Homo sapiens: one gene and its partners. The protein of the gene in region 1 purifies or fractionates together with the protein of each later gene. This does not show direct contact. Each region holds a gene or a part of one and is shown in the gene's direction. Other genes may lie near its edges. The genes, in order: KNDC1, ASAP2 and PPP2R5B.

Region 1 (3,648 bases):
CTGTCCGTGAGGCCTTGGAGTGGAGAGTGGCCTCCCAGGCTGAACGCATGCCTGGTGTCACGGTGTGTGTGTATGTGAGAAAATGCACCGAACAAAAGCCACCACTTCAACCCTCTGCAAGAGCACAGCTCAGCGGCATTGGGTGTGTTCACGCTGTTGCACAGCTGTCCCCATCAGCCCACACGAAACCCCAACCCCCGAGCCCGCCCCCTGCACCCCGTCCCGCCCTCCACCTCCATGAGCCTGGCCCCTGCACCCCGTCCCACCCTTCCCCTCCATGAGCTCTGTCCAGGGGCCTCGTGGGAGTGGGATGGACAGAGCTGTGTGTCTGGTCTCTTCACTGAGCCCACTGTCCTCACGGTTCCTCCCCAGGGAGCCTGCGTGAGAACCCCCCATCCCTGTCCCGAGGCCAAGCGCCATCCACACTGCCCCTGCGTCCGTCCGTGGATGCCTGGGTGCTCCCCGTGTTGGCTATTTCGAGCCGTGCTGCTGGGAACATGGGTGTGCACGTATGCGTGAGCCCTGCCCTCGGTTCCTCGGGGAATGTGGCCGTGTGGAACTGCTGTCACCTGGGAGGTGTATGTTGAGCTTTTCAAGGAACGGCAGCACTGTCGTCTGCAGTGGCTGCACCGTGGGACGTTCCCACCCACAGGGCCAAGGGCCCCAGTCTCCCCACGGCCCCCACACGCTGGAGTTGACTTAGGGACCTCCCTAGCCCTTCTATCAGGTGTGGGGGGCGCCTACTCAGGGGCTGAGTGGGCCTCACCCTGGCCTGTCCCCCGGACATGCCTCTCCAGGCGGCGGGCCCTGGCAAGGGGTGTCCACACTGACCTCGCCGCTCTCCTGCCCACAGTGGGTGTCCCTGCAGGACCTCCTGTCCCAGCTGGGCCGGCCCTTCCGGGAGTACGAGCTGTGGGCCCTGTGCCTGGCCTGCCTCCGCGCACTGCAGACACGCCCTGAGCACCCAGGTGACGCACGCACCATCCCATCCCCCCCGCCGTCCCCACCCCCCACTGCTGTTCCACCCCCCACCGCCGTCCCACACCCCCGCCGTCCCACCCCCCACACCGTCCCACGCCCCCCCACTGTCCCATCACCCCTGCCGTCCCATGCGTAACTGGCCCCCACCTGAACCAAGGGACCCAGGGGCAGCCAGGACAGTGTCTCCGGTGAACGGAACAGGCGGCTCCCGTCTGGAGCACCTTGTGGGTGCCTGCTGGGTTGCAGCACCGAGGGAGGTGTGGGGACAGATGCCTGCAAGGTGGGCCTTGAAACCGGTGACTGTGCCGTAAAGAGGAACGGGGACTTTGCCATGGCCCTCGCCCACACATTCTCAACACAGTGACATTGTCCCCAGGGAGGCAGCAATTGGCTTTGGAGTGGGGAGGGAATCTTCAGCATTGCACGGGTCTGCCCCGTCAAAGCCTAGCCCTGCCAGACATCAGGGCAGACGGACGGTGCATCTGAGACGTAAAAACGTCCTGGGGGTGATGAGGGCAGCATCTGAAAGGGCTGGGGGAGAGGCCATCGGAGACACACCCGGCTCCAGTGTCCGTCCACCGTGAGCCCGTGGCTGCCCCGTGGGCCCTGACTCGGGACGGGGCCTGTGACACGGGGGCTTCAAGTTACCGTGTTCTCCCTGCCGCTTGGCTCCCTTTCAGCCGCAGATATGCCGCTGCAGCCACTGTGTCGGCTGGGGCAGCGCTACCCTCGGGGAGGGCTGGGAGGAGGCAGCTCCGAGGACCCCGGGGGCTGGGGTCAGGCCATGTGCGTGCACTGGCAGGTGCGTGCCCGTGCAATGGGGAGGCTGGGGGGCTGCCCGGCCTGACTGAGGCTCCGCAGCTCCTTCCCCCCAGCCAGCCCCAAGTGCGGGGCAGCATGCATACCCGCCCTGACCCAAGCTCTGCCACAGCCTACCTGTGTCTGGACTCCGTGCTGGTTGCTGAGGACGGGGCTGTGCTCTTCCAGCCACCCCCTGCCAACGGTGAGTGTGTGGGTTCCCCTCAGGCCGAGTCCAGCACCGGCTCGCCAGGGGTGAGGAAAGCTCAGTCGGGTTTCTCTCTTAGGTTCCTATGACTCGTTCTTTCTGGCTCCCGAGCTGGCAGAGGAGAGGCTGGTAACTGAAAAGGTACCCGGGCCCTCCCCACCCTGCCCCAGCCCTGCCCCCAGCCCTCGGGGATGCCACGTCCCCCATCTGTCCAGCAGCCCCCCATCAGGACTCGAGGGAGTCAGGGCAGCCCTTCCTGGCCAGGCGGCCACAGGCGGTATCTGCCAGCAGGGCCGTGGCTCTGGCCGGGGCACCAAGACAGGGCTTGGTGTGGACGGCACTGGCCATGTGCACTAGAGCTGCGCCTCCTGGCTCACGAGAACTAAGGGCTAAACAACCAGGGATGTGTATAAGGCACCTGTGAAACATGAGCATTCTTAAAATTTAAATTACACAAATTTAAATACAATTCAATAAATTACATTCAAAATCAAGGTAAAACTTCCACTCAGGAATGATAGAAATGTGTACTTCCCGCTCCTCCCACCGAGGAAGAGCACTAAGTACCCTACACTAAGCACCCTGCACTAAACAAACACCCTGCAATAAGCACCCTGCGCTAACCACCCTGCATTAAACACCCTGCAGTAAGCACCCTGCACTAAACACCCTGCACTAAGCACCCTGCACTAAACAAACACCCTGCACTAAACACCCTGCAGTAAGCACCCTGCACTAAGCACCCTGCAGTAAGCACCCTGCACACTGTGCAAAAAACAAGCACCAGGCCACCTGCAGGGGGAGGAGACGGCAGCCGGCGAGGGGCCTCTGGACCAAGGAACAAGGCAGCCGTGAGTGCCCTGGGTTTTCCTTCTGCCTCACATATTGAGACTTGGAGGTAAAGAAGCCGGTGACCGGGAAAAAGCAATGGGCGCACACTAAAAGCCGCGCTTTTTCATCTTCTGGGGATGTTGTCTAGAGAAACTCGGAATGGTCCACCATTTGCCAAACCATCGAAGGCTTTCCTGCAGTCTAGCCTGTAACGAAAAGAGGCTGTCCTGAACCCCAGCAATAGATCGTTCACCTTTACACCAAGAAGGCTGGGAAAGCACTGTCATCTGCAGGTGGCCCAGGCCGACCTCAGGGGGTTGGTGCTGTGAGACCTGAAGCTCTTATGAGATTGTCTCAAACAAAAACCGCGTCCGTGAGGCTGCAGTGGCTCTGTGTGCACTGTGTGTGTTCCTGTGGGATCCCTTCAGGGTTAGTGCTTTCCCCTTCAAGGAACGAAAATCGCTGGGAAAGTGCTGAGGCACAAGCACAGAGTCAGAAAACTAAGAAAAAATGAAGCTTTTTGGAGTAATAAAAAAGAGTTTAAGCCCCAACTGGCCGGGCATGGTGACTCACGCCTGTAATTCCAGCAATTTGGGAGGCCAAGGCGGGCAGATCACTTGAGTCCAGGAGTTCGAGACCAGCCTGGGCAACATGGCGAAACCCCATCTCTACTAAAAATACAAAAATTAGCCGGGTGTGGTGGCACGTGCCTGTAATCCCAGCCAGGTGTGGTGGCACATGCCTGTAATCCCAGCCAGGTGTGGTGGCGCATGCCTGTAATCCCAGCTACTCGGGAGGCTGAGGTGGGAGGATTGTTTGAACCCAGGAGG
Region 2 (3,648 bases), on another chromosome or scaffold:
TTTGAGCAGGCTGGAATGCAGAGAGGAAGCCAGCCACAGAAGATGTGGGAATAGAACAGCTTGGGAAAAGGCCCTGAAATGCCAATGGGCGGGATCATGGAAGGACTGAAGGAAGGTCAGGGTGTGTGGGGAGGAGTGGGCGAGGAAGAGAAGGATGAGAGACGGGCAGAGGGGTGGGCAGTGCCAGGTCACAGAGGGCCTTGTCCATCTTGGGGAAGGAATTTGGATTTTGTTCTAGTGTGATGGGAAGCTGTTGAAGGGTTTTGAGCAGGGAATAACATGGTCCGATATCCATTTTAAAGACTTCACTGTGGTTCTAGGGAAAACAGACTAGCAGGGCATGAAAGGAAAGAGGGAGACCAGTTGTGGGGTGAGGGGCTATTGCAGTCATCTAGGCAAGAGGTCTTGGATGAGGAGGTAGCAGGGGGGGTGGTGGTAAGTGGCCTGATTGAGGTCCATTGTACAAGAAGAGGGGTCCAAACCTACTGATGGATTGTCATTATTGTGTGCTAGTGGCATAGAGGTAGACCCAATAGAACTCCTGCCCCAAACAGGGCAACAGCCAAGCTCAGTTCATCCAAGCCCCCTGAACAGACCTTCCAGCATCCCCATGGTGAAGCTGTTGCTGTCTAGAGCTACTTAGTGTCAGAATCCAGGCCAGCTCTGTGCTGCTTGATGTGACTGGTTATAGGACTTGTGTTGGGACCAGTTCCAGGGTCAATCAAGGAAAGATTGAAGCATAGCTGCATAGACTGGGGCCCAGGGAAAGAGAGAAGCATGGCTGCATAGACTGAGACTGAGGGATCTGCTCATGCGACCCTCTGCTGTTTCTATGCAGACTACAGCAGGTGATACTTATGGGCATTGTCAGATGCCTGGGATGCTATCCCCATTTCAGCTCCCCAAACACTCCTCTTTCTTTCCCTACTAAAGAGAGGTGACGTTCCGTGATATGAACCTACCTCCTTTGCTTACGCCTTTTCTGTGTAATGTGGCCTCCAAGTGGATTGCTAGGGCCCTTCCAGGTACTTTTTTTCTTTTCTTTTTCTTTTTTATTTTGTTTGAGGTGGAGTCTTGCTCGGTTACCCAGGCTGGAGTGCAGTGGTGCGATCTCGGTTCACTGCAACCTCTGCCTCTCGAGTTCAAGGGGGATTCTCCTGCCTCAGCCTCCTGAGCAGCTGGGATTACAGGTGACTGCCACCATGCCCGGCTGATTTTTGTATTACTAGTAGAGATGGGGTTTCACCATGTTGGCCAGGCTGGTCTTGAACTCCTGACCTCAGGTGATCCGCCCACCTCGGCCTCACAAAGTGCTGGGATTATAGGCGTGAGCCGCTGCGCCCGGCTGCCTTTCCAGGTGCTTTTATACCATTATCGTTTTTATCATGTCAACAATGTCTTGGAATAAACAGACTACCAACCCGAGCTGGAATACTTGGGCTGTATTTTTATGATGATGGTCATTTCTATGAAGGGATTTGACTGATTTAGTTTCTTCACTCATAAATGTATATTGGGCCCCTACCGTATGTTGTCACTGCCAGGTGCCAGGGATGTAAAAGTGGACAGGATGGCCTGGACGTCTAAAAAAAAAAAAAAAAAAAAAGTGAACAGGACTAGCTCCTTCCTTAGAAAGCACTTAATAGTCTCATGTTTTATGTGCAGTTCTGTTTCATCCTTTTAACCTTGTTTGTGCCATGGCTCCCTTTGACACTCTGGCGAAGGTGATCTGCCTCTTCAGAAAAATGTTTTAATGCAGAGAACAAAATAAGATTCCGAAGGAAACTAATCACAGTCATGCATTGCTTAATGACGAACATGCATCGTTAAGATTTCTTCATTGTGCGAACATCCTAGAGTGCACTTACACACACCCAGATGGCATGCAGGCACCTAGGCTATATATTAAGAGCCTATTGCTCCTAGGCTGCAAACCTTACAGCATGCCACTGTGTTGAATACCGTGGTAACTGCGACACAGTTACAGTATTTATGTGTGGTATTTGTGTATCTAAACATAGAAAAGACAGTAAAAATCCCTCTTATAATCTTATGAGAGGTCGTCTGTGTGGTTCATTGTTGACTGAAATGTCACTATGTGGAGCACGACTGTATATTGAAATTCAGTTAGGAGAATATTTTAAAAATTTTTACCATGCTCATAATGCTTCTTTACTAAAGCATTTAATAACAAGATTTACTGGTGGGTCTAACAAATACCTTAATTTTGAGGTATTGATGAATATAAACAATACGAGATATTTCTAATAAAGATAATGTAATGTTCATATCTTTTATTGCAAGTATTGATAATATTACCATGTGTTGCTTACATTTGTAATTGAAAGATACGATAAATTTCAGTTAGACCCTAATGAAAATACAGATAATTTTTTTTTTCCAATCCAAGTTTATGGACCCCCTGGATTCAGACAGAGAATTCCAGGCTTGATGGTAAGATTTGTTTAGCTAGTTTTTTTTTTTTTTTTGGAGTGATGGATTCTTTAACCACTCTGTTTGTTAAATATAATTATTATATTTCATAATTATTATACTGTCCTTGCCATGAATTGGTTCTAAGAGTCTAGCTGAGAAGAGTTGCACCCTAGGCCAGTGTTAGAATTATGAGGCGCTAAAGGTGTTTAGAAGCGCTCTTGGCGGGGAGCCATCCACTGTGGTTTTACATCCGTGGGGTGCCCTCTGTTCTTTCAGGGTTATGGCTTGGCAGCTTCTCATCTGATCCCACAGGTCAGTTCATATACTTGTGCATGCCTCAAGAGTTCAGCAGAGCTGCACATTGGACCTTCTGAGTCCTGTAATTAGGATTCTGAGCTGGGTAGGTCCTACAACCCAGCTCTCCTATTTGTGCCTTTCTTGTTTGTGTCACACGGCATGTACTGCCTTTGACTCTGCAGGGCAAGTTCCATTGTGAAGCACCAGAAGATTCATGGGCACCACCTACCCAGAATTTTAAGGGAGACTTTGCAGTGTGTGTTATTTTCAGTGAGGGTATGGATTTGAAATGCTGCTGCTGTTGCAAGAGTGTGTTGGGGATATCCAGAGTGTGGGTGAAGTCAATGTCAGTTCATATTTTTTTTTTTTTTTTTTTTCTGAGACAGGGTCTGGCTCTGTTGCCCAGGCTTGAGTGCAGTGGTGTGATCTTGGCTCACCACAGCCTTGACCTCCTGGGCTCAAGCGATCCTCCTGCCTCAGCCTCCTGTGTAGCTGGGACTACAGGTGTGCCCCACCATGCCTGTTTAATTTTTTTTTTTTTTTTTTTTTTTTTGAGACGGTGTCTCACTCTGTCACCCAGGCTGGACTGCAGTGGTGCCATCTCAGCTCACTGCAATCTCTGCCTCCCAGGTTCAAGTGATTCTTGTGCCTCAGCCTCCTGAGTAGCTGGGATTACAGGTGCCAACCACCACACCCAGCTAATTTTTGTATTTTTAGTAGAGACGGGGTTTTGCCATGTTGGGCAGGCTGGTCTCGAACTCCTGACCTCAAGTGATCCACCCACCTTGGCCTCCCAAAGTGCTGGGATTGCAAGTGTGAGCCACCATGCCCGGTCCCTGATTAATTTTTGTATTTTTTTGTAGAGAAGGTTTCACCATGTCATGGCTGGTCTTGAACTCCTGGACTCAAGTGATC
Region 3 (3,648 bases), on another chromosome or scaffold:
TGCAGTGAGTCGAGATTGTACCACTGCGCTCCAGCTTGGGCAACAGAGCGAGACCCTGTCTTGGGAAAGAAAAAAAAAAAAAAAGCTTTGAATGAGAGACTCCCTGGCTTCTGTCTTCAAGGGCTTTTCCTTAATGAACCCCAACTCTGCCACTCAGATCTCAGTGAATATCTTCCGGACTCTGCCGCCCAGTGAGAACCCTGAATTTGACCCTGAAGAGGATGAGCCCAATCTTGAGCCTTCGTGGCCACACCTGCAGGTCTGAAGGGTTGGGGAAGACAGAGATCCAAGTTTCAGAAGAGATCCAAGGCATGGGGAGAGGGCCTCCTTAGCCCCTAGACAGTTGGATGAGGGCCATAGGGTGGAATGAGTGGGTGAGGCTGTTACTGAACTCACCTTTTTGTCTGTCCCCCTCCCCCAGCTGGTATATGAGTTTTTCCTGCGTTTCTTGGAGAGCCCAGACTTCCAGCCCTCCGTGGCCAAGAGATATGTGGATCAAAAGTTTGTCCTGATGGTGAAGTGGGGAGCCCAGGCTGGGTGGTACCACAAGGCAGGGGCAGGCTCTCTGAGGGGCCAGGGATAGGATGGAAGCAACCTGGGGTGGACCTTTCCCCTGACCCTGACCCTGACCCTGACTCTGGTTCCCACAGCTCCTGGAGCTATTTGATAGTGAGGATCCCCGGGAGCGTGAGTACCTCAAGACCATCCTGCACCGGGTCTATGGCAAGTTCCTGGGTCTCCGGGCCTACATCCGCAAACAGTGCAACCACATCTTCCTCCGGTGAGTGGCTGCTGCCTGCCCAGCAGAGACCTGGGGAGGGTGAGAGGGCTGTTAGAAGACTGCGGCAAAGGCCATGTGCGGTGGCTCACACCTGTAATCCCAGCACTTTGGGAGGCCGAGGTGGGTGGATCACCTAAGGTGAGGAGTTTGAGACCAACCTGGCCAACATGGTGAAACCCCGTCTCTAATAAAAATACAAACATTAGCCAGGCATGGTGGTGGGCACCTGTAATTCCAGCTACTTGGGACGCTGAGACAAGAATTACTTGAACCCAGGTGAAACCCCGTCTCTACTAAAAATACAAAAAATTAGCCGGGCGCGGTGGCGGGCGCCTGTAGTCCCAGCTACTCGGGAGGCTGAGGCAGGAGAATGGCGTGAACCCGGGAAGCGGAGCTTGCAGTGAGCCGAGACTGCGCCACTGCAGTCCGCAGTCCGGCCTGGGCGACAGAGCGAGACGGATGAACCCAGGAGGTGGAGTTTACAGTGAGCCGAGATCATGCCACTGCACTCCAGCCTGGGCAACGGGGAGACTGTGTCTCAAAAAAAAAAAGAAAAGAAAACAAAAAAAAAGAAGACTGCAGCAAAGGCTCCTGGGCTGCAGGGGCCCTTGTAGAACTTCTGTTTTCCAAGCCCTTTCTCAGTAACGTATTACATATTGATTATACAAAGCCTGTGAAGTTGACAGAGAATGGGTATTTATTTCCATTTTACAGATGAGAAAGTAGAGGCCAAGAGAGATGAAATGGTTTGCAGGGACTGGGTCAGTCCAGGGGCCTAGGAGCTAAATCATTTGACCCTTATCATGCCAGGCCATAAGGACCCAGAGAGAGATTCTTTCTGCAAACATGCACTGAGCACCAGCACCCACTGGGCATCAAGGCTCACGTGGCCTTGTAGTTGAGACCATGGCTCTGAAGCTGTATGGCCTACATTTGAGTTTGGTTCCAACGTTTGGGTGAACTTTGGCAAATTACTTAAGCTCTCTCCTAGTTTGCTCGTCTTTAAAATGGGAATGCTGGCTGGGTGCAGTGGCTCATGCCTGTAATCCCAGCACTTTGGGAGTTGGAGGTGGGCAGATCACTTGAGATCAGGAGTTCAAGATCAGCCTGGCCAACGTGGTGAAACTCCGTCTCTACTAAAAATACAAAAATTAGCTGAGTGTGGTGGTAAACACCTGCAATCCCAGCTACTCAGGAGGCTGAGGCAGGAGAATCGCTTGAGCCTGGGAGGTGGAGGTTGCAGTGAGCCAAGATTGCGCCACTGCACTCCTGCCTGGGCGACAGAGCGAGATTCCATCTCAAAGATAAGATAAAAATGGGGATGCTGCTTGTACTAACTCAGGGACCATTATCGAGGTGACATGGGGCCTTGCCTGCAAAGCACTCAGCATAGCTCCTGGACTGAGGCCGGGACTCTGAAACATTAGTTGTTATTAGCTACAAAATGGGTGAGCCATGATCCCTGTCCTCCTGCACCTTGGAGTTCATTAGATTCCCTGCCTATTAACATTGGGGTTGTTTTATTTAACCGCTGAGTCTTGATTTCTTCATCCATGTGATGGATTTCTTAAGCCCCATCTCCCTGGATAATTCTGAGACTTACATGGTACGGAGTAGATGTGCTAAGTGTTTGTCATTCTCTTGGTTGACTGGCAAGAGAGCCTTGAGCTTGGGACTCAGTGGCAGAGGTGGCTGGGCTGAGAAGGGCATTTCAGTGTGGGGGGGCGGGGATCTCAATGGGGCCTGGTTTGGGATGTTGGGAAGGGAGCGCAGCCTCTGGGTTGGGGGAGAGTTGGATGAGCGTGCCGTGCAGGTGAGGGTGGGCAGGCAGGATGCCTAAGGGGGCACTGGGCCTACCCTGCTTGCTTTGAGCCCACCTGCGTTCTTCTCTTGCAGGTTCATCTATGAATTCGAGCACTTCAATGGTGTGGCTGAGCTGCTGGAGATCCTAGGAAGGTGATTCTCCCTGGGCCTCAGCTGGAGCTCAGGATTCTGGAAGGAGGGACTGGGGCCAGGTCACCTGAGCCCTCTTCCTCTCTTCTGCCTCCTCCTCAGCATCATCAATGGCTTTGCGCTGCCCCTGAAGACGGAGCACAAGCAGTTCCTGGTTCGCGTCCTGATCCCCCTGCACTCTGTCAAGTCGCTGTCTGTCTTCCATGCCCAGGTGAGGCCCAGGCCTGTCCCTGCTGCAGCAGGAGCTCCAGACAGTCAGGGCAGCCAGTGGGTCCTGGAGGTCAGATCCTCCAGGGATCCTATCTCACCTTCTTTGTCTTTATAATTCTGTTCCATCTACCTTAGAAAATTCCCACTGGCGCTTTAAGGCTAACCTCAGATATCAGCTCTGTGAAGCCAGGCTTTTCTTCTCTACCCTCCCTTGGCAGAATTACATTCTTCTCCATCTATATTCCCAAATATTTGGATACACAAATCTATTATGGGAGATTTTGATACACAATTTTTTTTTTTGAGACAAAACCGTACTCTGTTGCCTCAGCTGGAGAGCAGTGGTATGAACATGGCTCACTGAAGCCTCTACCTGCTGGGCTCAAGCAGTCCTCCCTTCTCAGCCTCCCGAGTAGCTGGGACCACAGATGTATGTGCCACATGCCTGGCTAATTAAAAAAAATTTTTTTTTTGTAGAGACAGTGTCTTGCTATGTTACCTAGGCTGGTCTCAAACTCCCAGGCTCAAGTGATTCTGCTGCCTCGGCCTCCCAAAGTGCTTGGATTACAGGCGTGAGCCACCACACTAGCCATATTATGGAACCTTTTGCAAAATTTATAAAGATGAGTTTGTTGACTGTCCCCACTCCCCGCGAGATCAGAGTTGTATTCCCAGCACACTGAATGTGATGCCTGGTACATCCT

Evidence for each region.
Region 2: the proteins of KNDC1 (region 1) and ASAP2 purify together in Homo sapiens (affinity purification with mass spectrometry; one large-scale study listed by BioGRID and IntAct). This does not show direct contact.
Region 3: the proteins of KNDC1 (region 1) and PPP2R5B purify together in Homo sapiens (affinity purification with mass spectrometry; one large-scale study listed by BioGRID and IntAct). This does not show direct contact.

What each region holds. Positions count from the first base shown.
Region 1 is NC_000010.11:133,187,686-133,191,333, forward strand, and holds part of KNDC1 (kinase non-catalytic C-lobe domain-containing protein 1), read left to right. Parts: intron 1-853; coding exon 854-968; intron 969-1,912; coding exon 1,913-1,984; intron 1,985-2,066; coding exon 2,067-2,128; intron 2,129-3,648. UniProt on the Homo sapiens protein: RAS-Guanine nucleotide exchange factor (GEF) that controls the negative regulation of neuronal dendrite growth by mediating a signaling pathway linking RAS and MAP2. May be involved in cellular senescence.
Region 2 is NC_000002.12:9,213,193-9,216,840, forward strand, and holds part of ASAP2 (arf-GAP with SH3 domain, ANK repeat and PH domain-containing protein 2), read left to right. Parts: intron 1-3,648. UniProt on the Homo sapiens protein: Activates the small GTPases ARF1, ARF5 and ARF6. Regulates the formation of post-Golgi vesicles and modulates constitutive secretion. Modulates phagocytosis mediated by Fc gamma receptor and ARF6. Modulates PXN recruitment to focal contacts and cell migration.
Region 3 is NC_000011.10:64,927,645-64,931,292, forward strand, and holds part of PPP2R5B (serine/threonine-protein phosphatase 2A 56 kDa regulatory subunit beta isoform), read left to right. Parts: intron 1-157; coding exon 158-259; intron 260-421; coding exon 422-514; intron 515-650; coding exon 651-781; intron 782-2,677; coding exon 2,678-2,737; intron 2,738-2,836; coding exon 2,837-2,945; intron 2,946-3,648. UniProt on the Homo sapiens protein: As the regulatory component of the serine/threonine-protein phosphatase 2A (PP2A) holoenzyme, modulates substrate specificity, subcellular localization, and responsiveness to phosphorylation.